4 separate regions of the Homo sapiens genome follow, and all the other regions are reported to be linked to region 1. The links are microRNA targets in miRTarBase. Many come from high-throughput screens and were not tested one by one. Region 1 holds a microRNA gene; each other region holds the end of a gene's coding sequence.

Region 1 (7,123 bases):
ACAGGTGAAAGAAACCTGGCAGAGGTTAAGTAACCTGGAGTTATTTTTCTTACCTAGCAAGAGGTCTAGAGGTGAGTGGTTGCTGGCAGTAGTTCAACTGTGTAGTAATGCTGTCAGACTCCTTCTTTTTCCCTAGCTTTCCTTTCCACCAGCTTTAGCTTGTAAACTTGTTTCCTCATGTTTGTAGCCTCATAGTCACAAGATGTTGCTGCATCTCCAGGTAGATGAAAGGCAGGAGCAAAAGGCCTTTATATGGATTGAACTGTGTCCCCAAAAAAGATATGTTGATATCCTAACCCAGATACCTGCAAATGTGGCCTTATTTGGAATGCAAATGTAATTAGTTAAGATGAGGTCATATTGAACCAGGGTGGGCCCTAATCCAATAACTGATGTCCTTACAAAAAGAAAAAACAGAGACAGACACAAGAAGAGAACGCTATGTGAAGGCAGAGACACACACAGAGGGAAGACAGCCCTGTGAAGAAGGAGGCAGAAGTTGAAGTATTGAAGCTGCAAGCCGAGGAATGCCAAGTATTGCTGGTGTAGGAGAGGAAAATAATTACCTTTTCTGTACCCATCCTAGGTTCTCCAGCTAGGGAAAATTAGACTGCATATTAGAGTGGCCCGGCACGGTGGCTCACACCTGTAATCCCAGCACTTTGGAAGGCTGACGGGGGTGGATCACTTAAGGCCAGCAGTTCGAGACCAGCCTGGCCAACATGTTGAAACCCCATCTCTACTGAAAATACAAAGATTAGCTGGGCTTGGTGGCAGGCACCTGTAATCCCAACTATGCAGGAGGCTGAGGCAGCAGAACTGCTTGAACCTGGGAGGTGGAGGTTGCAGTGAGCTGAAATCGTGGTACTACTACTCCAGCTTGGGCAACAGCAGAGCTAGACTCAGTCTCAAAAAAAAAAAAAGACTGTATATTAGACTGACAAAAGACAGATTAACAAGAGAAAAACAAACAAGTTTATTGAAATATGCATTGCACATACACATAGGAGTATTCAGTAATAAGTAATTCAAAGGAGTGGTTAGAACTTGAACTTAGTCTGGTGCAGTGGCTCACACCTGTAATCCCAGCACTTTGGGAGGCCAAGGTGGGCGGATCACGAGGTCAAGAGTTTGAGACCAGCCTGACCAACATGGTGAAACCCCATCTCTACTAAAAATAACAAAATTAGCCAGATGTGGTGGCACGCCCCTGTAATCCCAGCTACTCAGGAGACTGAGGCAGGAGAACTGCTTGAACCCAGGGGGCAGGGGTTGCAGTGAGCCAAGATCGCGCCCCTGCACTCCAGCCTGGGTGACAGAGTGAGACTCCGTCTAAAAAAAAAGAAAAAAAAAAAGAACTTGAACTTACATAGAATTGAGCAAAGAACAATAATTTTGTAGAGAAGTGGCAAGACAAAGGAAAATGACTTTGAGCTTCTAGGGGCAGCAAATTGTGGGAAGGCAAATATATGGGGAAACTTATGGTAGATGAGGGCTAGTTAATACGTTTTGTTTTTGTAGATTCCTCTGGATGACATCTTGTCTCCAGTGATAAGGTGTTGTCCCTTTATGTTATCCCTTTACTGGTAGGGGGGTAGAGGGGGGCACTTTCACAAGGGGAGCTTATGTTCTGTTTTCAGGCAGATAGGAGGCGGACAGAGATCTCATCCTGGGTCTGCTTTTTCTCAGTTGCCTTCAAGTCAAAATAATCCATATGCCAGAGTGGCATATTGTGGGGTGGCATAATCCAAACCCCTTCATTGGCAAGCATCAGAAGCCAGGAAGAGACAAGAAAAGGTTTTTTCCCCTACAGCTTTCAGAAGGAGCATGGCCCTGCTGACACCTTATTTCAGTCTGAGGGCCTTCAGAATTGTGAGATACTACATTTCTGTTGTAATCTACCCAGTTTGTGATACTTCGTGATGGCAGCCCAAGGAAATTAACACAGCACAAAATCTTGTCTTTACTTAGGATATCTCCAGCTGATTTCTTTTTATATCCTATTGGCCAGAACAAGGTCAAATGCCCAAACCAAGAACAACCAATTGATAAAGGGAAGGAGATTTCCATGACTGGTTAGGCCTATCCTGGAGTCGGGGACCACTCTCCTTGGAAGCAAAGATCTCTCCTTACCACCTGAACACACTGAAAGAAGGGAAAATGGCTCTTGGGGAGGTAGTGGGTAGTGCCTATCACACTTGAAGGTGGACCACTGTGCTGCTCTGTGGACTTTAGAAATGCTGCCCTACTTAACAGTGTTTGAGATTCATCTCAAAACAGATCTTTACCTTCTCCAGAAGCACTCAGGAGTTTAGGTGAAAGATCCAGGTGGATAGCTCCAGGGTAAGAAGTTAGAAATGCTGACACTATGTGAGAGATAGTGTTCATAGGGAGAGACCATGGGATCTTACCTAAAACCAAGAAATGGGTGGTAAATGTAGTGAAAAGGAAGCACCAGGAAATTGGAAATCTCAGGGAGGAGAAAAGGCAGGTGAAATGATCTGGTACTGATGAAAATCCCCCATCTCTACATCAAGGGGATTATTAACTCAGTTTCAAAAATAGAGAACAAGAGAGAAAAAGAGAAACAGGGATGCTGTTTTAACTATAGGCAGCAGTATATAGTAAGACATATTTTTAATCTTTTATCAGTGAAAGTGTAAACAGTTAAATCCAGCACTAAATAATAAATGTGTCAATATTTTAAAATATATTTTTTCATAGCTAAAATTAGAACTAAACATGCTAATGAACTCAGCACCAAGGGCTGGAGGTGATGGAGAGAACATTTCATCTCCCAGGCAACTCCCAACTCTGCAAGTTCTAGAATTCCTAAACATTAAATTTTCTTCATTGAAGACATATTTGGGAACTATAGCTTCATCATAAGGCAGCCAAGTCTTGTGATATATGGGTTAAAGGAAAGTTATGCTTCTCCTGGGGTCTTCCTCTACATTTCCACCTAGACGGGCCTGGGTCAAAATGTAGAGGAAGACCCCAGAAGGAGCAAAACTTTCACCTGCGCCTCTTCCACCTGGGTCTGTCCTTTATCCTACCAGCTCCAAGAACAGGATTGTAATTGGTCACCTGATCTACCTGCATCTTCCTGACTGCAACAAGTTCTTTGCCCTATAGCTGCTTTATTTCCACAGTTTGTCTTACCTGGAAGCACCTCTTCCTTCTTGGAGTCCCTTCTGTTCCCCAGACATACCTCTGTCATGGCACCATAGCATTTTGTGGCTTTTAAAAATTACATGTCTTATCTCCCCTTACTAAGGACTTTGGGGACAGTGATCTTGCCTTAGTTGTCTTTGGGTTCCCAGCATCTAACACCATTGGGGTCTCTTAAATGTTGGATGAATAAATAAATTATTAAAGGCTAATCTCAGGGGGGAATAGAATATGTCATAAATTCCTCAGCTGGAACTCATAGGGATCAATGATGTCCCACACAAAAGCCCTATAGGGACAAGAATTCAGGAAGGGTGTTAGCTGCAAATCTTCCTGGCCTATGGAGAAGCATGGAATATACTGTGAGCCATATATGTCCCTGAAGCTAATCTAATCTATCTCAATGAAATTATATGCTTAGGTATTGTCATCTCAGTTTCTAATGTGTAACTTTTGCTTTCCTTGGAAATTGAAAGGATTTGAGCCATTTCTTAGGTAGTTTCAGGACGATACTGCTTCTCAGAGTTAAGGACTTCCTTTTTTCAATGTGTACCTGAACATCCAGAAGTTAAAAACAAGAGTAGCAGAGTCTTGCAGATGCAAACATAGTACAGAAGTTCTCATCCATCGCCCAAATTGAAACGTGCAATGTAAGCTGTAGCCATCCAGTTCCACTGCAGTGCTGGAGCAGAGGAGCAAGGGAGTTGGGATGAATGTGAAGAACTCAGAGGACCATTGGGAGCATATTCATTTCACTCATTCTCCGTAAAAAACAGGCATGTTGCTGGTAACCTGGACTTTTTCCAACCCTGGCTACACAGTTGCTGGATTTAGGTGCCAGACTCCTGTTGCTTCTTATTGCAAAATGCCCCCACATGGCATTTTGCCCCATTTTCATTTCTGCTTCTGATTAGGTCACTGTGAACTTTCTCTCCATGTTTACTCAAAGTACCAGAAATATGTAGGGACAGCCTCCACTTATCTCGAGATTTCCTGCTGTTCATGATTCAGCTCACTTTGCTGTTCTTTTTCATTTCCTCTATCTTACATTTTGATTGTTTTTTATCTTCTTTTTCTTCAGCTTTATTGCTTGTTTCATTGGTTCTTAGCCCAGTGTCTGAAAGTGACCCTGAGAAGTTGTCTAAGCAGAAAAGCATGCATTGTGTTTTTAGATTGTTCAAGACAGGGCCGCCATTACCCCATTGGATGCCTTTGTGCAAAGTGGAAAAATGTGTCCTTTTCTCTGAGGAGATGCAGCCCTACACTAGGGTGCATGGCTTGGTTAGCAGAAGGCAGACTGATTTCAAAATCCAGTCTATTGTGCATTCTTGTGCCGTGAATGGAGAGGTGCAGCCCTGTTTAGAGAAGAGCCTGTAATCTTGCTTAAATAAGTCACTACAGCAACTATTATCTCACAGTGAAAATGTTCCTCTTTAAAGGCCGCTAAATAAATGAATGACCTTGGACATACATTTATTTCCTCACTTTTCAGTAGTTTACAAGATCCCTGAACACCATTCAAGGCTTATATTAGTGGCTTTCTGCTACCGCTAACATCAAATCCAAAACACCATGGACTTACTTGCAAGGTCTTATTTGCACTTTCAGCATAGCACCATGGACTTATTAGCACACTTTAGTGTTATATTACCATCTCACACTTGTCTTCATTTCAGCAAACAATTAATAAACATGGACTAGGAGCCAAACTCTTGAAGCACAACTTTCGTTTATCACCAGCTTCGCATTTTCACCTCATCTAACCCTACTAACAAAATGCATATCCTTGAAACTTCCAAACAGAAGACTCTGGGGATGTTTGGCAAAACCTCAGCATAACTTCTGCTGCTCCAGGCTTGGGATCCACAGAAGAGCTGCCTCTTGGGTCAGCTCTTCCAGCCCTGCTCGGCTCCTCCCTTGGCCACTCCCAGTCCCACAGACCCTCCTCTATGCACTGTGCTCAGACACCTGCTTGAAGTGCAGAAACTACTTCAGTATCACTTGAGGGAATCTCTAGGTATAAATTCTACACAGAAGAAAAATGTTAATACTCTATTTGCATAGTGTTTTGTTATTTAGGAAATGCTTTCACATGCATTAGTTCGTGTAATCCTGAGTTGGAATAATCAGCCAAAAAGCAAAAATGCATACAATTCAGTTGTCTCTCAGTCTATCCCACCCCGTTCTTCCCATGGTGCTGGTTGGTTCATAAATGGGAGCAAGTGAAAGCCTGCCCCATTGTGGCCCCAGTTCTGGGCTTCAGTTTCCAAAATAGATACAGACCTCACCCAAGTTCCATCTGTTCTAACCCACTTCCTCCTTGTCCTGGTCTCCAACCTTTGGCACCCATGCATTCACTTTGGTCGCCTCTTCCAGGTCTTTCTTCCTCCAGCTCCCTGCAGGTTAAGGATGAAGTGGTTTCTCTCAATTCCCTTTGTACGAGAAACACAGGGTTCTTTATGCCTACACCAGTTTCAGTGGGAAACCCTCTTTATAGCAGCTATGCAAATCCTGCATCTGGGATACCTGTGACTCATTTACACAGAATCTTGATCCTTTCAAACAACAATAGTAACACTAACTCATGCTTACTGGTTTCTGCGTGGCAGGCATGGCACTCTGTGCTCTCTGCATGTTATCTCATACTGTTGCAGATTTAGGTTGAGTACCTGATGCCAGTAAGCCAAACACTGACACATCAGTGCTTAGGAGCACAGAAAGGTTATTCAAATTGGCTACAGCATGAGGGTGCGAGAGGCACCTCTCAAACCCCACCTGTCTTTGAACATAACTGGGGGGCTTTTACGAGTAAGGTAGATATGTGGGAGGTGAGATTCTCTGATGATGAAAGCTGCTTGTGTCCCTCAGCCAATCGAACTTCTGGATGCCATCAAGGAGGTCTCCATGACCTAAGGATCATTGTTCTTTAAAAGAAAAACCAGTTCATTAATCTTGCAGACAGCCCCTGGGGGTCAGGATATGAAGTTAATCACTTATTAATGACTACCCTCTAACGAAATGACTATGTGCAAGCAAACATGCATGGAGGAAGACAAGGACAAAGAAAGAGGAAGAAGTAAAATGAACATCTTACGATTTTTATAATATAGGCTTGGTGACATCACCTTCCCAACAGACACACAGGGCTACTATGAGTATGCCCATTTACAAATGAGGTTGAATTGAAGCAGTTTTTACAAAGGGACACCACTGACCCTAAAGCCCTGAGCTGTCTGTTTCCAGACTTTTTTCACTCCTTTATCTTCTGCCAGCTTTACGACTCCATACATTTAATTCCTCAGAGACCACTATTTTTGTTTAAAATCTCTAAGTTTCTTCCTAATTCTATACCCCAGTGTCAGCATTCAGCAGTTCTATAAGATCTCAAAAGATTATTTCTCCCAAATCCTCACCTTGACCCTCCCCAGGCAAACGTTCACATGTTCACAACCCAATGCATTCACTTTACTCTCATCCTAGGCAAATTGGGGGAAGTCATGTTTCCATTGCAATCCGGAAGAAGAAATACCGCAGGCCTGCCTCTCTCCACCCAGGACTTGGGCATAGTCATCATCCAGCCTTTGCCCTAAAGCAGAGGTTTTCAGCCCAGGTTGCAAAATAGATTGCCCTGGGAACCTTCATAAAGCTGGACACCTGGGCTGCTCACCCTGAGGAATTGAGGCAGAATCGCTGAGGGTGCGGCCTGGACACAAAAGTTTTGGGGTTTTTTTGGTTTTTTTGTTTTGTTGTGTTGTGCTTTTTTTTTTAAGGACCTGGTGATTCTGATGAGAACCACTTGCCTGCCTTTCTCTTTGCCAATCTGAGTCCATTACCATTTTCTTGAGCTAACTCAGACATCATTTTCTTTAGATACTCTATAGGAGCACCTAACATGGCGCTTGCCACAGAAATGATTGACTGTTTTCTCTCTGTACATCCTCATTAACTCCAA
Region 2 (7,123 bases), not on the chromosome of region 1:
TACAGGCGCCTGCCACCACGCCCAGCTAATTTTTGTATTTTTAGTTAAGATGGAGTTTCACCATGTTGGTCAGGCTGGTCTCAAACTCTTGACCTCGTGATCCGCCTGCCTCGGTCTCCCAATGTGCTGGGATTACAGGTGTGAGCCACCGTGGCCGGCCAAACTTATTTAAGAGTTTGTTGGCGGGGTGTGGTGGCTCGCGCCTGTAATCCCAGCACTTTGGGAGGCTGAGGCAGGAGGATTACCTGAGGTCAGGAGTTTGAGACCAGCCTGGCCGACATGGTTAAACCCGCCTCTACTAAACATACAAAATTAGCCAGGCGTGGTGGCACATGCCTGTAGTCCCAGCTACTTGAAAGGCTGAGGCAGGAGAATCGCTTGAACCTGAGAGATGGAGGTTGCAGTGAGCGGAGATCGCGCCGCTGCACTCCAGCCTGGGCAACAAGAGCGAAACTCCATCTCAAAACAAAACAAAAAAACAAAAACAAAACACAACAACAACAAATGTGTTTTCTCACCTTGCAATATTGATAACCTTTTTTGTTGTGATGAGAAGTTCCAGTTCCGTTTAGTGGTAATGTGACAGTGGGCATTACCGGTGTATTCGTTAGGATACTGGTTTGGCTACTTTAATGAAGAGGAAAAAAAAAGGCTTTAAATAAGATGAAAGTTCCTCTCTTATGTGAAGGTCTGAGCTAGTAGGCAGACCAGGAGAGACAGGTGGCTCTGTCCATGAGGTTAATGTACTTCTGGTATGCTGCCCTTTCCCACATGGACAAAACTGGTTTGCCATGACCACGTTCATGCTCCAGATCAGAGGAAAAAGGGAAGACAAGAGAGGAGCATGCATTTTCCTTTTAGGAGTGTAGCCTGGGAGATGTAAACTCACATCTGCTTCCATGCCATTGGTCAAAACTTCGTCCCATGGTCACTCCTAACTACAAGTTAGCCTGGAAAATACACTTTTTTACCAAGGGAGCCACTGCCTAGCTAAAACTTTTGGGGAAGGAGCAGTTCTGTTAATGAAGTGAAGCGTGGGGAGATTGCTGTTGTACCGTTGTCTTGTTCCTAAACTGATGACATATATAACCTACCAAGTAAAAGAAGTTTCATAGATTTAAGGTTTTTCTCCCAATTAAAAAATAAATTTATGACCTGGCATTCATATGCAAAGAAATATAAATAGGCCAGATGTAGTGGCTCATGCCTGTAATCCCAGCACTTTGGGAGGCCAAGGCAGGCAGCAGATCACCTGAGGTCAGGAGTTCGAGACCAGCCTGCCCAACATAGTGAAACCCCATCAAATACAAAAATTAGCCAGGCATGGTGGCGTGCACCTGTAGTCCCAGCTACTCAGGAGGCTGAGGCAGGAGAATCACTTGAACCCAGGAGGCAGAGGTTGCAGTGAACCAAGATCGAGCCACTGCACTCCAGCCTAGGCAACAGAGCGAGACTCCATCTCAAAGAAAAAAAGAAATATTAGCCAGGCGTGGTGGTTCACACCTGTAATCCCAACACTTGGGAGGCTGAGGTGGGCAGATCACTTGAGGTCAGGAGTTTGAGAACAGCCTGGCCAACATGGCAAAACCCCGTCTCTACTAAAAATACAAAAATTAGCCAGGTGTGGTGGCATACACCTGTAATCCCAGCTACTTAGGAGGCTGAGGCAGAAGAATCACTAGAACCCAGGAGGCGGAAGTTGTAGTGAGCCAAGATCGCACCGCTGCACTCCAGCCTGAGCAACAGTGAGACTGTGTCTCAAAACAAACAAAAAGAAATATAAAGAAAAAAACTAATAAACTCTATCATATGCTGTTCCTATATATACTGATATACATGCCCATTTCTTTCTTTTTTCTTTTTTTTTGAGACAGTCTTACTCTGTTGCCCTGGCTGGACAGTGTAGTGGCCTGATCTCGGCTCACTGCAACCTCCGCCTCCCAGGTTCAGGTGATTTTCCTGCATCAGCCTCTGAAGCAGCTGGGATTATAGGCACCTGCCACCACGCCCAGCTAATTTTTGTACTTTTAGTAGAGATGGGGTTTCACCATGTTGGCCAGGCTGGTCTCGAGCTCCTGACCTCAAGTGATCTGTCCATCTTGGCCTCCCGAAGTGCTGGGATCACAGGCACGAGCCATCGTGCCCAGCCCCATTTTTCAATATAGTGAAAATATCAATGGATTCTTGTGATGTTGATTACTATTGATATGCACATAAGCACAAGTGAAGAATTTGTAATTTTGTTTGATTCAAATATGTAGAATTGGTTATATAAATAGAGTATTATGTTTTGCAGAAGCCAAAGTGCTATACTTAGTAAAAATTCAGACTGTAGTGTGGGAATTAACATTTATTTAATGTGTTAGTACAGGCCAGGAAATTTGCATGTAATAAAAAATATCTGACATTTGAAAGCCTACCATGTGCCAGGCACAACTTAATAAGGGAGTTATACCCACTTTATAGATAACAAAACTGAGGCACAGAGAGGTTAATTTTTATTTACTTATTTTTTTATTTATTTTTTTGAGACGGAGTCTCGCTCTGTTGCCCAGGCTGGAGTGCAGTGGCACGATCTCGGCTCACTGTAAGCTCCGCCTCCCGGGTTCACGCCATTCTCCTGCCTCAGCCTCCCGAGTAGCTGGGACTACAGGCGCCCGCCACCACGCCCGGCTAACTTTTGTATTTTTAGTAGAGACAGGGTTTCACCATGTTAGCTAGGATGGTCTCGATCTCCTGACCTCATGATCCTCCTGCCTCGACCTCCCAAAGTGCTGGGATTACAAGTGTGAGCCACCGTGCCTGGCCTGAGGTTAAGTAATTTACCTAAAGTTATACAACCAGTAAGTAGAAACACTAGGCTTCGACGCCTATGATCTCTCCACTACATAGCATTGCCTCTCAATCACTATTCTCTTCAATGATGATAGCACAGTGTAACAGACAAGTGCTAGTCTAGAGGAGTTCAGGGTATGATTGCTTCTTTCCTAAAACTTCAACTCAATACCCTAGGAGACTTCTTTGGAAAATTAAATTCTGAATTCATTAATAGAAATTCATTTTACATTAGATCTTTTGGGAAAACCTGTTTTATAAATTTAGGATTGCCACAAGGCAGGTAGGTAGAAAGTCGATACGGAATTTGAAAGTACAGCTGCATAATACCAAGACAACTCTGAAGTCGAAGGAAAATGCTATTTAGTCTTACATTCCTGTTTTAAACATGTATTTATACTTAAGAATGAACATATCCTTTATTCTAGTCTTACAATTTCATTAAAGTTGAACTGATGTAGGCTTTGTAAATCTCAAAAAAGTTTGCCTGAAATGATATGTATAAATGATCTCTGATATTTCTACCTGTTGGGACTTTGAATATAGTCAGTAAATTAGCTAAAAATGGGAACAAGTCTTTTGATGGAAAAAAGGAAATAAAAGAACTTGCAATGAAAAAATATGTTGACTGGACTACATAAAAAAAATTTCTTTCTCGGAAACTGCTCTCTTTCTTTGTAATTTTACTAATTGCTGGGTCATACCAATAAGGTCAATCAGAAAAAGAGATTTCAAATTCTTTTAAGACGTAAAGAAGAAGAACTCACCCATCAAATACAAATATACTATTTTATTCTAAGGGAATATTTCTGTGGTTTCTGTAAGGGGAAAACCTAAAAGTGGTTAAAAACTGAAAAAGAACAAAAAGGATGATTTAGATGTTTTTGTTTGATGTTTTTTTCTCCCCTGGAAAAAAAATGTAATTTTACACAATTTTCATAAAATTAAAAAAGCAATAATCAGACGCACACATCAACAGCTACACTTATGAGGAATGACCAATAATTAATCAATATTTTCTCTTATGAATAAATTTAGGGTTCTGGGCAACTCTGTGGACTAACATGCAAATGAAATCCTGATACAGTCATTTATCTGGGTATTGGGTGTTCTCAGTAAAAGATACAGATTTTTTTTTCTGGTATTTCATAACAATTTATCTACTATGCTAACAATATTTGTTTTTTCATACAACTACAGAAGGGGAAAATGTTAGTGTTTATACAAACCATAAAATTCGTATAGTGGGGACTATTACACTTGCTATTTCTGGATAGTTTATTGGCAGACTTATCAGACAATCCAATTATTTGTCCTCCATATCGAACAAGGTATGGAGTAAGAAGTTTTCCAGTCAGAAATGACAAACACAGATGGAATTAATCATACAGAATCGGGGTGGATTTACTTCTTTCATACAGTTCTTGGTAACAAAAATGAGATTTGTTACAGGCAGAGGGACAGAACCACCAAGTACACAATGTCAGAAGGCCTACTTTTTTCATTTTAGTTTTACTTAAATGCCTTTTATTTGTTAAAAAAGAAATACACCTGCCACCCCCACCTAAAAAATGAGATACCCTGAAAAGTCTTTCAAGATTAAAATTTCTAAGAGGCTTTTTGACATCTCTCAGTTTTATCATAGCGTCAAATTAACCTTAGCTGAAGAAGTTCTGCAATTGGCAAACGTCATAAAAGCTTTGATTCCAAATTTTGTGGGGAAGAAACTGAGAATGGAGATGAGGGAGATGGACTGATATGCCACACACACCTATGACTTGCAATCCTCATAGAACTACTGAAACAGCTAGAGTTTGGAATAATGCTCTAAGACCTGCTTATGGATATGCAAGACAATGTCTTTGTATCCTCACCCCAGAATCCCTATTTTCAAGTTTCAAGGGCAACAAGGTCATCTTCCAAATGCTTTATATAGGAACCTAACTAGGACCTTTTCTATCATAATTCAGATAGCTAAGTAATACTGTATCTTTGTGGAATCACTCACAGGTTTGCCAGAGTAAGAAAAGAGACTATCCTTTTTGAAATGACAAGGGCCTCCAGAAACTGGTGCAAAAGACAAAATAAGAGGAACTGTTTGGGAAATAGGAAGGTAAAACAACGGGAGAAAAGCTGCCATTGGGGAAAAAAAATGAAAATAAAAGGAGAACCCCCATTTCTCTGTACCACAGCTCAGGCTGTGAGACAGCTGCAATAAGGGCCCACACCCAGAGAAGGGGCATTTTAGTGGGTTTCTACAAACATTTCAAGACACTTGGGGTCTGATAGGCTCCACAGATTTTCTGTGTGCATAATTAGTTTGTGGAATATCATCCCCTTTACCTTAGTTTACCCACATCCAGACCCACCGCTGAGAAGGCTTGATCCAGAAAATGAAAGGGACACATTACTGTTAACAGCAGTGAAGGTCATTTTCCCTGATGTGAGGGGCCCATGGCAAAAGCTTCTGTCCTTCACATGATTGGCTTGGCAGTGAAAATCAAAATCAATCAAGACCACTTCACTATCTTTTTTAAAAAGTTGAGTATTTTTATTGGGTCTTCAAATCTGGGTCCCACAGTCCTCATTTGATGTCACTCTTAGCTCTGTACTGATCTCTCCTCTGACTTTTACGGAGGGCTTGCCAAAGTAGCCTATTGCAGCCAAAGTTTCACTCCAAAGCTACCTCTCTAAGGTCTAAGGTTACTATGGTAAAGTTTTATACAACAGTTTTCCTTAAAAATATTCCACGATTTGTTACTCCCAAACAAAATAAGATTATGCACCACTCGGAGAAATTAGTCATTCTGAAGATGTCTAAGAACTATATCACTGCCAAAGAACATTTCTCAGTTCATATTCTTTCCTTCAATTTTCATTTGCACATCCACACTGTGGGGTTCACAAGTCATCTGTTTTCCATGATCTTATGGTCAAGTCAAGAGGACTTAGACTTATACATCATTTTCCAACAGCTGGATGCATTCACAGTTTGGTGCATACCAATATGTATGAAAATAAGAACCTCACTTCCGTTTTAATCTGATAATTCAACATCAGAGTCTTCAGATTTGGCTTTGGCAAGTTCTTCATGTACCTCCCTCACCATGAGAATACGTGTTAACATGGTGTCCAGGGTTCCAGGGTCTATCGGGAATGTGGAGTACCACATGGGGCTATTCGGGACACAGGAGCGCTCAGGTTGAAGGTAAAACACATCATTCCTTTGCTTCACACTTTCAGAACTATCCACAGGGGAAAAAAAAAAAGAGAAAAAAGAAAATTAGAAATCAGAGAGTATAGGAAATATGTACTATTCTTAAGTAAACTGAGGTTTTTGCCATTAAAAGTAATTAAAAGTAAGGGCAAAAACTGCAATTATTTTTGCACCAACCTAATATGGCTCTCAACCTTTCTCCACTGTGACTCACAATGGGGAAAGCAAGGTACCCACAGAGATAAATAGTTTACAGGAATATTTCCTCCCAGGAATCAACTGAAATCACAATGGATTGGAAGTGAGTATAAAGTTAATATAAGACAAAGTGTAAATCATAAACTTTAGTACTTCAAACATTATTAAGAGCAACAAAAAAGTCAACTCACATGTGACACTATGGCCAAGCACCACATATTGGAAGTGCCCAATATCCTGGAATGAACTCCAAGGGCACTCAATACACATTATCAAAGGGCAAATGAAGCTATTACATTTCTTTCAGAAAAAAAAGTGTTACAACTCTAAAATCATAAAGTTCCTCTAAGAAAAGGACTACTTAGAAAATTTCAATTCCTTAAAAATTGTTTTTCTATTATAGCTTTAGCAAAACAAAATTTCTTTTCTATACAAATAACAAAATAACTACAGATTAGGTATCACATAAAGGTTGTACAACAGTTGTAAAGATCAAACAATAGCAGTGATTCTTGCTTTTGAAGACATTTTCATAAAATAATTATGAAGACAAGGTAATTTGTTTTGTGGTTCAAAATCCACATAGATATGACAATGGGGAAAAAATTCATGGTAAATCCTTGTCTAAAGCCACGGGCAAGCTACTTTTCTGATGTTCAAGCATCTGAAATCCAAAATATGTTAACTGCCTTCTGAGTGCACTACATTCAGTTCAGAGAAAGATTACCATTTTGACAGGTAAAACTCATAAAGTCGGACTGGGCATCTTAGTGGATTGTCAGTATTCTCTGCCATCTCCACCCCCACTGGAACCTCATCATCTTCATTTCGTTTCCTCTTGCCAACAGTCAGTTTATCTTGAGACAGGAAATA
Region 3 (7,123 bases), not on the chromosome of region 1:
TAAAGTAGTTATGATTGCACAGTCTGAGCAACTATGACCACTGGGCCTAAGTAAAGTGCAAATTCAGGTGGGTGACCCTTCCAACTGCATCTGGAGCCACAGTCATGGCCTGTGTGTTAATGGCAGGTGGGAGGGTAACACTGATCTGTGGCCTCTAGCTTAAAAGCAGCCTAAGTGTAGTTCCATATATGAAATTTCATTCTAAGTCTGTGGCCAAAGAGCTCAAATCCCATTAGAACCCAGGCTAAACCTCCAAGAGCAGTAGGAGGCCAGAGTCATGGCTTCAGGGTTCTCCCAGAGCAGAGTGGACCAGACATAGCCATGCACATGCGAAAACTTGTGTGCATTTGCACACTTGATTTCCTTTGCATGTGCATGGCCATGCAGGCAAATGTGGCTTGATGTGGGCCAGGACTCTCTCATTGTTCCCCAGGACTCCCTTAAGAGGCCTGGAATCTCCATGGCACATTAGCATGTGTCTACAACATGAATGACACCTACTAAGTGTGGCATCGTATGCAGGTCAGTCTCAACAGCTGCATGCAGTACTCCTCCTGGCTCTCTGTGACTCCTTGGCCATGGAAAGCCCACACTTACATATGCTAAAGCCTCCATTCTTCTCTCTGCAGGGATGACATGCCAAGCTCGAAGCTCCTACATCACCAGTGAGATCCTGTGGGGTTACCGGTTCACACCTGTCCTGACCCTGGAGGACGGGTTCTACGAAGTTGACTACAACAGCTTCCATGAGACCTATGAGACCAGCACCCCATCCCTTAGTGCCAAAGAGCTGGCCGAGTTAGCCAGCAGGGCAGAGCTGCCCCTGAGTTGGTCTGTATCCAGCAAACTCAACCAACATGCAGAACTGGAGACTGAAGAGGAAGAAAAGAACCTCGAAGAGCAAACAGAAAGAAATGGTGATGTGGCAAACCTGGAGAATGAATCCAAAGTTTAGTGCCCTAGCTGGGCAAACCCTTCTCTTCTCCCCCCAACACAATCTTTCCTTGTCTCTCATTCTCTTTCTTTTTCTGTCTCTCTTGCTTTGTTCTTTATTTGTTTATATTTAATTTTTACATGACCAGAAAACAAATCTTCAAGGTGTAAAATATCTACCTGCCCTCTCTCAGTTATTCAGATTGACAAGGTAGACATGGATTTGATGAAAGTGCAAAGTGCCCTCATTTGTGGCCCAAGCCTGGTCTCCTCCCAAAATACTACACATCCAACTCCTGGAGATTTCAGTTACTTACCTGCATGTGTTGTACAATACCAGATCACTCAAAAAGGTGTGTCAAAGATTTTACCTGGGATATGACAAGCAAGGTTTCTGGTGCCTATTTATTCATTCAGTGAGACACAGAGTGGAGCCCTCAGTTTTATGGATCCCAATTCATTTCATCTACTACAGGGTGAGGTGCTTGCCCCCATGTGGGTGTGGCAGTTACAGGGCCCAGGTGAGCTGAAGACAAACCACTGTACATATATATGCCTTATGTAATTATTTTCTTTTTGTAATTAGTAATAAAACCCAGCATGTACAAAAGTACCATAGAACAGAACTGCTAAATACTGTACATAGATGTATCATTAATGTAGGTTTAGATATATAACTTTAGAAATAAGAAGCAAAAAAAAAAAGAAAGAAAGAAAGATTCCTAACATGCAGTAGGCATTTCTGTTTTGATGTCTGTGTTTTCCAGGTTATTTTGATCCAGTTGACGGCTGGCCCTTCAGTGCATGGCCTTTGTTTGTGTCTCAGACTGGCAGACGTTAGGGTACCTCACTGTTCCCACACGGATCCTTTCATTGAATCCAACAAGCCATAGGTCTGGGGGAAATTGAGAGGTCTGGTAGATGGCAAAACCCACCACCAATATGCTGATATACTGTGAAATGTTACAAAACAGATGTCTTTTTTTAAAAGATAACAAGGGCCTCACTAACTGGCCTGGAGGAGGGGGAATACCAGGAAGGAAATATTCTCTAGCCTGTCACCAAAGGTATGTTTTTACTTTTCACATGAGCTCTTGCCCTTTGTAGTACAATAATTTAGGAAACTTTTCTGCAAAACCATTGATTCTCCAGCTGTAGTTTCTCTACACTCTTACAATGAGACATGGTAAGTTAGCAGAAGATGGTTTGGGTCTAAAGCCGTGAAATTCACAAAGGCATGTAGTGAGTGGCATGCATTATAATCATCGACCTCTCACTTTGACTCTATCTGGCTTTCTGAGAATGACATCTCGCCTGTCCCTGGGGCTTATCCATCAGCATTTCTTGCATTGTGATCTTTTATTATTTTGAAATGACCAGAGTTCAGTATTCAAAGATTAGATCAACAATCTTGATGATTGTCTAAGAAATGTCTCTAGAGTATGCCACAGGCTAGAAATCAAATCCAGTGTCTGTCAATCAAAAGAAAACAAATAAAAAAATTCCAGCCTTAATTCACTTTAATCTGCAAAAAGGAAAGAAGGGAGGAAGGGAGGGAGGAAGGAAGGAAGGAAGGAAGGGTATTTGTACTGGAAATCTGAATTTTAAAATGAAAAAAATAAGGAAACAAATCTTAGATCAAACCTCCGGGGCAGGTGGAGATTTTGCACTGTTACAGATCTTTCACATTCACTTTGCATTTATAAGCTGTTTGTTCTTTAACACAGTTGCCCATCATAAATATTCATTGAATGGATCCAAGTTTATTTTCAGCTCCTACAGCTGTGCTCAGTTTGAGGCTCTGCACCATGGAGGTCAAAGAGATCAAACTAGCTGTCCCTCTTTGTTTCCCTTGCCTTCCCTGACCTGATCGCACAGGCCTTTGGTGTAGTCTGGGGACCTTGTCTACTAAAAAAGAAGTCCCAGGATAAGGAAAGTGGCTCCTAAATATAACCTCGGGGCCTCTCTTCTCCCATCTCAGAGACCTTGGATCAGGACAACTGCCTCTTGGCACTGACTTTAAGGAAAACAAAACTGTTGGCTATAGCCCTTTCCTGTTTGCCAGCATTTCCTTTTTTGCATTGAATCTCTGTTGAATCATTTCTTTATTTCGCACACTCTAAGAAGGAGGTGGTGGTCCGGGAGGAGGAAGCTCGATACACTCCCCTTGAGGCTGCGGGGAGGAGCCATGGCTTGACCTCTCTGCAGCCTAATGAAGGGCACTCTTGGCTTGGGGAGCTCCCCTGCAACCTTGCCAGGGTCGCAGGGCAGGCCATGGCAGGCACAAAACAAGATGGAATAGGGGCGGCAAAATGTCTTCTAATTTAGCTCTTGAAGACTCACTGGGCCTTTTTAATTCCATTGCTAAGGTTTAAAGGACAGCGCACACCCCCGTGTCTGGTTGGAAGAGCAAGCAGCTCAGGGCCTCATCCCTGCTTGCCTGCCCTTTAGCACAACTGAACGAAGAGCCTTGACAACACGTTGGCCACGTGCACCTGTCAGTTCTGTGTCTGTGACGGGCACCCAGATGTGAGGTCTCTCCCTGTTTCTCACTGTCTTTGTTGTCAATGTAGTTGGAGACAGAACTTGAACCAAATCTCGTTTTTGTAATGTGAGCCTCTGAATCTTTACATGGGGATGCTCCTGAAGAACCTTTTACTAGAATGTCCCTATCAAACATGTCTATTTTTCTACAGTTGTTAACACAGTTTAACAGTGTATTTTGTGTCAACTGTTAAAATTTGGAACTGAAAGTTCATTGAGACTGATTTTCTAAGCAGCGAGTAGTGAGTGAATGGTGTTTTCCATTAAGACAGCTCAACAAAATTGACCCCACAATTTCCACTCATTCTATTCCGCAATATCCAGTCCTCATTCCCTCAGTCACTCCATTAGCAAACCAAGTGCAATGAGAATTTTTTAAAAGTCTCTTTTAATACAACAGTATCCATAACTAATGAAGATCACTCTCAACTAGATCCTTTGGTCTGTTTGGTTAATGTATTTGAGTCATTTTTCCATAAAGCATGGTGGGATCCGTGAGCCAGATAAGAATTTGGAATTTAAGGGTTATGGTTTGCCACAGTTGACCCCAATTTGACAGAACAAAGTGCTCCTGGATGGAAGGGCAGGTTCAGCTGCAAGCATGACCCCCCACCACAAGGCTGCTGAGTTCCTCGGATTCTCACCTCCACCCACCCCAACGTGCTCTCCAACTGGAAGAGCACCCATTCATTTATAAATCAACTTTATGGAACCAATAAAATCATTTCTGTTTTAGCTGTCCCCTGGGTAAGCTATACTCTTTTACATTAACATAGCAAATGTCAACTTTTCTGTTCCTTCAAACATGGCCTTCCAGCCTGGTTGTTCCAGCATATATCCCCTCTATGTCCATGAGGCAGAACTCTCTCTTCCCCCACTCCGTTCTTCCATCTATCCCCATCCTTTGCTGTTTCCCTGGTTCTCCAGTTCCAATTCTATTGTTTTAGTTCAGTACCTTATGTTCCCTAACAGAAATCCAGCTGCAAATGTCAACCTATTTCTTAAGCACAATTTTCTCTTGCAGGTCTAACCAAGCTAGGGCTCTGAAATGTCTATTTTTCACTGCACTCCAATTTAAAAATTATTCATGACTTCATTTAATAGTCTAAATTTTGAATTCTCCAGAGCAACATTCTTATGCTTTCCATCCCTACATTTTCTTACATTTCAGTTTTCTTACTTTTTTCCCCTTTGCTTTTTTATTTAGATTTAAGCCAGTGTCTTTGGGATATTTAGAAACTGCTTACAAAGGTGGGAACTGGTGGACAGAGAAAGGGGGCATAAGAATGCTATTAGAAAACTACCTGAACTCACCAGAAGAATGGGAAATCATTTGATTTGCTGAGAGAATACAATTAAAATACTCATAGTAAATCATTTCCAAAACAGTTTGCTAATAGTCTGGCTACTCTTCAGTCTTTCTTTCCTTGACTTGGGTGATACTCTGTATGATTTAAAAATGTCAGGAAGGTAGTTGAAAGTTCAGTGTCCTCTATATATTGTAAACATTATCTTCAAGGATGATTTCCTTTCAATGGATGGCTTTAACATTGAAAAACATAGGTAACATATACATAATAGATGATTCATTGATATTACTTTACAATACACTAAAATAACATTATCTTGTTTCTGAACTTTATGGCCAACCGGTATCTAAGAAAATGTTAGCCTTTAATTTAAAATTGAGTAAAGCACGCCTCTTCCTAATATTTCTGCCTTTAATGTCTTGAGTGCTTTAGATGCAGAGTGTCATCTAGAAGTCAAAATTCTGTCAGAAGGCTGCTAAGAGATTTTGATAAATCACAGAATATATAATAATAACCCAACAATATTTTACCCAACATGGTGTGGTGTTTGAGAGCATTAAGAGCACTTGTACAAATTATCTTATTTCATTCTAATTCACCATGAGAGGTTGAGTATTATAATTTACATTTTATAGAGGGAAAACTAGGGTTTGGGCAAATTGGCCAAGTTTAAAGGCCAGTGAATCATAGCTCCTTGTCTCAAATCCAGGTCACAGGGCCCTAAGCTGTGGGCTATTTTTACTACAAAAAATTTCAGCAAACCAAATCTGCTAAAAAAAAAAAAATCTGGCCTGCTGCCTGTTATTGTACCACTTGTGAGCTAAGAGCAATTTTTACATTTTTTAATAATTGGGGGAAAAAAAAGAAAAGAAGAATATTTTGAGACATGTGAAAATCATCCTAAATTCAAATTTCAATGTCCACAAACAAAGTTTTATTGGAACACAGCCACAGCCATTTGTCTGTGTATTGCCTATGGCTGCTTCCACATGCACTCACAGAGCTGAGTAATTACAACAGAGACCGTGTGGCCAGCAAAGATTGAAATATTTACTATCTGGCCCTGTATAAAAAAAGTTTGCTGACCCCTGTACTGTACTGTTAAGTACTATTGGTACTATTAAGTACTAGTAATAGTACTATTAATAATAGTATGTAAGAGTACTAAGTACTATGAAATATTGTACTGTACTCTTAAGAGAGTCCTAGGCAATATAGAAGAATGACTTTTTTTCTAGCATAAATTATTGAAGTCACTCATAAGTCTGTTCAAAATAACATAACTCTTTTTTTTCGGTTGTCAAAGAGACAACTGCTTCACAAGACTTAGAGAGCCCAGTCATTCAGTTAGGGTCTCAAAGGAAGAATCCTTCCTTTTCATGCCATTCCTCCAGAGTGGCAAATAGAGTCAACAGCCAGCCAGGATCTAGCGGTCAACTCAGAAAGTGGATACAGTAAAATTACTCCTTAATGAACTACAGAGAAATGGGCATTCCCAGCCCAGCCGCTGAAATATTGCTTCAGTGGCACCCTCAGGCGTTGGATGATGTACATAGCTCAGGCTGCCAGTCTCTGCTCAGCAAAGCAGCCCAGACCTGCAGTGGTTGCCACACATCAAACCCGCCTCGCTCCTCCACATGGCTTCTCTCTTAGGCTCTCTTGGAGGAGAGTTAAATAGGTGGCCCAGATGTCTCCCTCTGTTTTCTTGCTAGTTTTCTCTAGCCTACAGTTTACAACTGATCAAGGTGATGAACGTGAACCTGGAACTAGCTCATGTTTAATTGCGCTAGTTTTTGCTCTCTCTAGCCACTAAGCTAGAAGTTTAATGTGTAATTAAAGAACTAAATGCTTCTTATGGAAAACCAAAAGGTCCTTTGAAAAGAGCTCAGGGAGACACGGAAGTATAGTAAAGGGTTGTTGGATTTCTTGCGCTTTCTGAGTCTGAAGCAAAGACAAAGATTGGTAATTACAGACATAATGGATGGAAAAAGTCCAGACCTTGGGGTTTTTAGATGAGTCAATATTAAATGGCATTCTTTGTGTCACTAAGCTGAACTCCCTTGTCTTCTAAGGAAGCATTTCTAATGCCAGAGGTAGTCAGCCAAGCTAGGTTCCTTATCTTTTTAGTTCTATGGAAAAACATATCAAGTTCTCTTATGAGTGCTTTCCTGGAAATCAGATGAGAAAGAAAAAAAAGTAACAATGTAACAAATCATTGTGATGTTGTTATATTGTCGACAGATAAAGGATGGATTTGATCCTGCGTCTGAAACTAAGTAGGTAATGGTATCTACAATATAGATCATGCAAAAAGCTTGTGACCCTTCAACTGCATG
Region 4 (7,123 bases), not on the chromosome of region 1:
CCAGCTACTTGGGAGGCTGAGATAAGAGAATTGCTTGAACCCGGGAGGTGGAGGTTGCAGTGGGCTGAGATCATGCCATTGCATTCCAGCCTGGCTTTGTCTTAAAATAAATAAATAAATAAAAAGGTACCCTTCCCCACCTACCTCCGTCCAGAATTATAAAAGTGTTTTTCCATGGCATTTTTATAGTAGAGTTTTTTAAAAAATACTTTTACATTTAAATCTTTTGATCCATCTAGAATTTGTTTTGGTAAGGTATTGGTCTGACTTTTTTCCCCCTGAGATGGTTATATAGTTGTCCAACATCATTTATTTAATAATACAATAACTGTTTTTGATATGGCACTTTTATCAGATGCTAAATTTCTATATATATTGGGGTTATTTCTAGTCTTCTGTTTCATTGATATATCTGTCATTCGTGTGCCAATACCATGCTGTCTTAATTTGTTTATAGATTTGTAAGTATGCTAATTTCTGATAAGGTATCTTTGATATGTTTTCTTTAGGTGCTGTTTTGTCATGGGTCTGTCTATTATGCAAATAATTAAAGTATTTTTACTTTATTTAGTGACAGATTTAACCATATTATATTTTTCTTTATTAAAATTTTTCATGGAAATTAGGATGAAGTAATGGATTATGGGTACACTGTAATTTACCTAATTATATCTAGTGTGGTATATTTAGTTGCTTCCTATTTTATTATTATAACTAATGCTACAAAGGTTATCTTAGTCATAAAACTCCTACTATGTTTAGGATTATTTACTTAATGTAACAGCATAGAAGTGAAATTTTTGGGTCAGTGATTGTGAACATATTTAAAGCTCAATATTTATTGCCACGTTGCTTTTCAAACAGATCATATTGGTTTAGACTGCTATATATACACACACATATATATATAAATGTTGTATTACAGTTTTATTTTTACTTTATTTTTATTACCTTTTTAGGTTTCTTGTGATCAGCCCTTACTGAAAGAAGGATATAAAAGTGCCCAAAAGCGGGCCCCTCAAGGGGAGGCAACCACAGTCTCTGAATATTTCTTCAATGATATCTTCATTGAAGTGGATGAAACAGAATAAAACAATCTTTTCTCTTTTTCTTTTTTAAATTAGGTCTAGGATTTCCAGAGTCAATTACATCAACAAAACAGTATTTAGAGCAAAATATCACTGTCTTATTTTTCTTTAGGTTGATTTTGAATACTTAATGAGCTTGATTTGAAGCTTTTATAATCAGTGGAAAACATTTCTGAGGTTCCTTTCATTCTGACTGATTCAGCATTTTGCAAATAGCAAGCAATTAAGACTGCTTTCTCAGACAGAAATAACAACTCTTGTTTACATTTTGACTCTTCCTGTGCTAAGCACACATGGACATTTGGGAATGTTGTGGATATATGTCTCTGTATGAATTGCAGTGCAGACAGATTTGGGGGTTAATTGTATCATATTTAACATTTAGCAACTTCTTTTGTGAAGATTTTTTATTTTTAGGGGGAGATGATGAAGGATGAAGGCTTTTTCATTTGCTTCTAAGTACAGTCATGTATCACATAATGAAGTTTAAGTCAATGATGGACCACATATATTACAGTGGTCCCATGCAATTAAAATGGAGATAAATTCCTATCAACTAGTGACATTATAGCCATCATAACACAGTGCATTGCTTTTTTATGTTTAGATATGTTTAGATACACAAATACTTACTATTGTGTTACAACTGCCTACAGTATTCAGCATAGTAACACATTGTAGAGGTTTGTAGCCGAGGAGCAATAGGCTATACCACATAGCCTCAGTCTGTACGGTGTGTAGCAGCCTGTACCATCTCAGTGTTTGTAAGTACACTCTGCGTTGTTTCACACAAGATCACCTAACAAGGCAATTCTTAGAACATGTAGTTAAGGGACACGTGACTATATGTGAAAACAAATTGTCAAACTTCACTTTAGTATGGCAAATGTTAAAGAACTTTTCTATTATCAGCTGTTTGTCTGACTGAAAAATACATATTTTTCTAATTCATGGTGATGTAACATTAGTCCTAATTGAAAAACTAGTATTTAAACATAATTATTTATAAAGATGACACATCAAAGGGCTTATTTATTTTTAAATTTTTTATTTAAAAGGATATTCAGTTTTAGCTATTTTTACCCCTCAGATTGTAGATAAAGAAGGCATTAAATTTATGTTTGTCTCCTTTTTCTGTTTAATTTTAAAGATATTTAAAATGATATAACTAAAAATGTTTAGCTGGTGTATATGTTTTGAATACCTTTTTCCCCTCAGTTTAGTATATTGACTTTGTACTGTAAATTTTTCTGCTTTTCTTGGATAATCTCAGGATTTTCATGAGGATAGGGGGAACTCAACTTTATTTATGAGACAAAATTTCCATACAAAGCTCAATCTCCTTTATACACCCACAGACATAATATTAGTTTTTAAAAAGCCAATTTCTTCATAGTTTTTTCCCATTAAATTCTCAAGGAACACTTGGATCTTTAAGCACGGAACATAATCATGATGTTAAAAACAGAGAAAATAAGGCTTTATAAAGTTAATGATTATCATCAGTATGAATTTAAGGTTTGTTTTAATTTCAAGATTTGATTTTTTATACGTGTAATTCTATTATCTACCCAAGCAGATCTGTAGTGGTTCCAATTAGACTTCTCAAACAGCAAATTTATCCTGATTTTATTTGAAAAGCCTCTTGGATTGATAGTATAGTAGCTCAGGCATTGGAAACTTTCTGCAAACTGTTTTGGGTTTGCAGGCCAGATGGTCTCTGTGGCAGCTACTCAGCTCTGCAATTTCAGTGTGAAAGAAGCCATAGACAGTACTTGAATGAAGGACTGTGGCTGGATTGGCCTTTTAGTTTGACCCCCTACATTAGGCCCCAAATTTTCTTACCCTGAGGTGCTGATATCTGTATGGATGAGTTATTTGTCACTAAAGTTATGAGTTGTGCCTAAAAGTTAAAACTGTTGACTGTATTATGTAATGATCAGTATTTCAGTTGGGAAGATATTTTAGAGTCTAGATAATTATGTTTGTATATTGAAAAAATGGTGGCCAGTTTTTAAGTTCCTTAATAGAAGAGAATTATGTCTCAGCACATATAACAGTAATGCTAATTTATTGAAACTACTGCTGTTAGAGCACTTCTTATTCATTGTCTTTTAGTGAAATTTATGGCGTAACACTTTGTCAGAGAGGAGGCTATATAATTCGGAGCGGAAATTGTCTATAAGTAGGCATTTATTTCATGATTGATATGTCACAGAAATCATGGTAGTAAATCACATTGCTATTTGAATACCCTGTTTTTGTAAGTTTTTAAAACTCATATTCTGAAAAGATTTCATTCTCTTAGTGTTAGCTTGGGAGTTAGATTGCCATGATTAAACTATTATTTATCCTTGTGTAATATTAGTTTTTAACTTTAACATCTGTTTCTTTTTAATCTATAATGAGCTAGTTTTATGGAAAATGGAATTTCTTACTATATAAAGAATACAGAGACTCATTGTATTAGAGAATCAAGTCAGCCAGCTAAAGTATCCTACTGTTAAATCCTTAAACCTAATTTTGGAAAAGAGAAAGTTAATCAATGTATTTACCTTACATGTTGGAAAGAACTATGTTAGGTCTGATTCATGTGAAGAAGATGTTGCAAAGGATTTATTTCACAAATTTTAAAGGAGATATGAGTAAAAGTTTTTATCTTTTCTTGACTTTTTCTCCTGAACACTTATGTCTTAGCAAGTGGTCAACATGAGGATTTGAACGCCTAATTGTTGGTAAATGGTTGAGGCATGACAAAAATATTAATATCCACTGTTTACCATCATGTTATTTGAAACAAAAGTGACCATGTATACTATCTTGCTTGAAGAAGTCTTTGACAGAAAAAGCAATATCATGTCATTTATAAATTTTCTTGTTCTAAAGAAAGCAGTTATATATATATATAAATTATGTAAATAAAAGTTATTTTATATCATTTCTGTTGTGTCCTTTTAAGATGACTAAATAAAGAATTGGCTGGGTATCGTGGCTTACACCTGTAATCCCAGCACTTTCGGAGGCCGAGGTGGGAGGATTGCTTGAGCCCAGGAGTTCAAGACCAGCCTGGGCAACATAATGAGACCTCATCTCTACAAAAAAATTAAAAATCAGCCAACTGTGGTGGTGTGTGCTTTTGGTCCCAGTTACTCAGGAGGCTGGGATGAGAGGTTCGCTTGAGCCCAGGAGGAGGTTGAGGCTGCAGTGAGCTGTGATTGCCCCACCACACTCCAGCCTGGATGACAGAAGAAGACCCTGTCTTTGTGGGGAGGAGACAAATTTTTGACAGGTGTGCATGTCGTTATTTCAAAGCTGTAGGAGTCTGCAATGTGATTGTCCTAATAGTATTTGGAAGAGACTCCACACAGCATCTCTGTTTGCTGCAGCATCGCATCCTGAATCTGCTGGAGAGCCCTGTCTTACATTGGGTTTCACTAAAAATCGGCAGTCTTACGGGCTACCCAGTAAGTAGGTTGGGGTAGTATTCCCAAATATATTTTATCTCAAACTCAAAGGGCGACTTCAAACATTGTTGCTTCTGTCTTCATGGTGACCAGTGCAAGGTGCAGAATCTTGTCTCCCTCTCCCCACTGCCTTTGTTTAAGAGATGGGGTTTCGCTTTGTTGCCCAGGCTGGAGTGTGGTGGCGTGATCATAGCTCACTGCAGCCTCGAACTTCTGGGTGCGAGCAATCCTCCCAGGTAGGTGAGCCGTCATGCCTGGGTAGCTTGTTTCTTCCCTTCAAAAATAGATCCCATGTCCTCAGACCACTAGACCCTTAGGAGATTCACCTATGTGGCAGGCTCCTGAACTTTAACAGTATTTACCTCCCAACCTCTTATATATGTATGTCTTCCTAAGACATCTAGCTGCTTGCTAATTCGTGCTTTCCAGCTCCAGTTAGCATAATGTTATACATGTCACATTTCATTTTTTTGTCAAAAATCAAGAAAATAAAAGTCTCTCCAGACTATATAATGAAAGAAAATGAGGGTATTCATATCACTCTGAAGTAAGACAGTAAAATCAGTTGTCCCTGCCACAATAATTCAAGTTCTTTTAATTTTTCTTACTGGAATGGAAAATGTTGCATTTTTTTCATGGCACTAGCTTTATTCCAGGTATTAGGAGTTGTGTTGATTTGGTCTAATAAAGGTACCAATCGCCAACTGCAGCTGTGATTGACATCATTTGTTAAATCTGTGATAACTTATTGTCATTCCCCAAGACCAGTGGTTCCCAAACTTTATTGCACATCAGACTCACCTGGGAAGCTTTAAAAAGTTTCTGTGTCCAAGTGGTATCCCTTATTGTTAAATCAGTGTCTGGGTGCAGTGGCTCATGCCTGTAATCCCAGCATTTTGGGAGGCTGAGGCGAGACATAGCGAGACCTTATCTCTACAAACAAAACAAAGCAAAAACTAGCAGAACATGGTGGTGTGTGCCTGTGGTCCCAGCTACTTGAGAGGCTGAGGCAGGAAGATTGCTTGAGCCCAGGAGTTCAGGGTTGCAGTGAGGTATGATCGTGCCAGCCTGGGTCACAGAGTGAGACCCTGTTGCTAAAAAACATTAAAAAATAATAGGGCCAGGCACAGTGGCTCACGCCTGTAATCCTAGCACTTTGGGAGGCCGAGATGGGAGGATCGCTTGAGCCCAGGAGTTTGAGACTAGCCTGGGCAACATGGCAAAACCCCTTGTCTACTAAAATGCAAAAATTAGCCAGGTGTGCTAGCACGCGCCTGTGGTCCCAGCTACTGGAGAGGCTGAGGTGGGAGGATCACTTGAGCCCAGAGGTGGAGGTTGCAGTACGCTGATATTGTGCCACTGTACTCCAGCGTGGGTGAAAGAGGGAGACCCTGTCTCAAAATAATTAGAAAACACACACACTCGCAGTGCCTGGGGGTGGGCGTCAGACATCTCCATTTAAAAAAAAAATCTGCAGGTGATCCTAAGGTGTAACACCAACACCAACACACAAAACAAAAAAATGTGAAACATTGTTCATTCGGACCTGTCTGACTTGAACAGCTGGCCAAGCTGGTGAATCAAATGGAAATGTAGTAGGAATCAACAGATCCCACTCACTATGTGGGTCAGAGAATGGGGGTGGTTTAAACCTTCTACTTGGCCTTTCCTTAATGCCTTATCTCATGGGTTAAGGAAACTGTGTGATGATTCTGCTATATCCTACTTCTGTGTATTCTGGGACTGAGGAAATAATTACAGGATGGGCTCCTGTGAGAAGTCAGACCAAGAATCCATCTTTCACGCAACCTCCATTAGCCTTCACTCTGAAAACTGGATCACAGAGGCTTTTAAGGTCTCTGGAAATCAGTATAATTTCAGAGTCACTATCTTAATAACCGTGAAATAGCTGAGTATTTTTGTTTCCCCAGTGCAAAGACCCTGATGAATAACCATAGTTCTCTCTGCAGAAGGCTTGGGGGAAGATTTATGGTATACCCATGAAGCCACAATTACAAAATCCTTCCTCAGAGGCTCCCATCTGCCCCCTCAGTCAAGGGACTTTGGGTCTATAACCTGATTTATTTAGTCTGGAAACTGGATATGAGGCTCTCTCCACTATGGAGACTTGAGTTTGGTTCTTGCACAACAGACCTAGAATTGTTTTGTCTATAGGTGTCATGCAACACTTTAGAAGGCTGTCAGTCTAACAGGAACCTTGGGATCAATTAGCCATCATCACAGATCCCCACATGTAAAAATACACTATGTCAATCCTTTGCTATGGCTTATTACAGTAATTGTGCCTACCTGGTCTAAAACAGTTCGGCATTGCTGCCTGGCTTCTTCCAGTATTCCCAATGAGGTCAAGGGGCCTAATTCCTTGGCAGTACCTCTCACCATCATCTCCAGTCTGCAAAGGACAACCATCATAGTGGCTGCATCAGCTCTTTAAAGAGGCTGATGCTTCTGTTACCAAGACTTTAAAGAAAAGAGTGTCCTCCAGGCCCTCTTGGGAGTTATGGTTAGGGGGTGTCTGAATAAGATGCACATAAATACAGCCAGTCCCCC

The links. The annotated mature microRNA hsa-miR-4698 reads UCAAAAUGUAGAGGAAGACCCCA and lies in region 1 at 2,978-3,000, shown strand. An mRNA with a match to its seed (bases 2 to 7 or 8) in the 3' UTR can be bound and repressed. Matches are read on the target gene's strand: a 7mer-m8 pairs with bases 2 to 8, a 7mer-A1 pairs with bases 2 to 7 and ends in A, and an 8mer does both.
Region 2: miRTarBase lists ZMYM4 as a target of hsa-miR-4698. Seed matches in the 3' UTR shown: 7mer-A1 at 5,336-5,342.
Region 3: the mRNA of KCNJ6 is a reported target of hsa-miR-4698. Seed matches in the 3' UTR shown: 7mer-A1 at 1,704-1,710, 7mer-A1 at 2,298-2,304, 7mer-A1 at 4,587-4,593, 7mer-A1 at 5,270-5,276 and 7mer-A1 at 5,664-5,670.
Region 4: the mRNA of BDP1 is a reported target of hsa-miR-4698. Seed matches in the 3' UTR shown: 7mer-A1 at 1,205-1,211, 7mer-m8 at 1,291-1,297 and 8mer at 1,353-1,360.

Annotation. Positions count from the first base shown.
Region 1 is chr12:47,184,883-47,192,005 of GRCh38, forward strand. It overlaps MIR4698 (microRNA 4698), which reads left to right and starts at 2,930; the gene lies at 2,930-3,009. All of the region lies in intron 2 of PCED1B (PC-esterase domain containing 1B), which reads left to right.
Region 2 is chr1:35,418,427-35,425,549 of GRCh38, reverse strand. ZMYM4 (zinc finger MYM-type containing 4) reads right to left here. Exons shown (of 30, transcript NM_005095.3): 29 at 6,978-7,107; 30 at 3,492-6,080. The coding sequence ends at 5,873. Among named protein-coding and RNA genes, the nearest start is that of ZMYM4-AS1, 56 kb to the right of the region's middle.
Region 3 is chr21:37,618,991-37,626,113 of GRCh38, reverse strand. KCNJ6 (potassium inwardly rectifying channel subfamily J member 6) reads left to right here. Exons shown (of 4, transcript NM_002240.5): 4 at 630-7,123. The coding sequence ends at 955. The region is part of intron 1 of KCNJ6-AS1 (KCNJ6 antisense RNA 1); the gene reads right to left. Among named protein-coding and RNA genes, the nearest start is that of KCNJ6-AS1, 100 kb to the right of the region's middle.
Region 4 is chr5:71,563,795-71,570,917 of GRCh38, forward strand. BDP1 (BDP1 general transcription factor IIIB subunit) reads left to right here. Exons shown (of 39, transcript NM_018429.3): 39 at 960-4,026. The coding sequence ends at 1,091. Among named protein-coding and RNA genes, the nearest start is that of MCCC2, 20 kb to the right of the region's middle.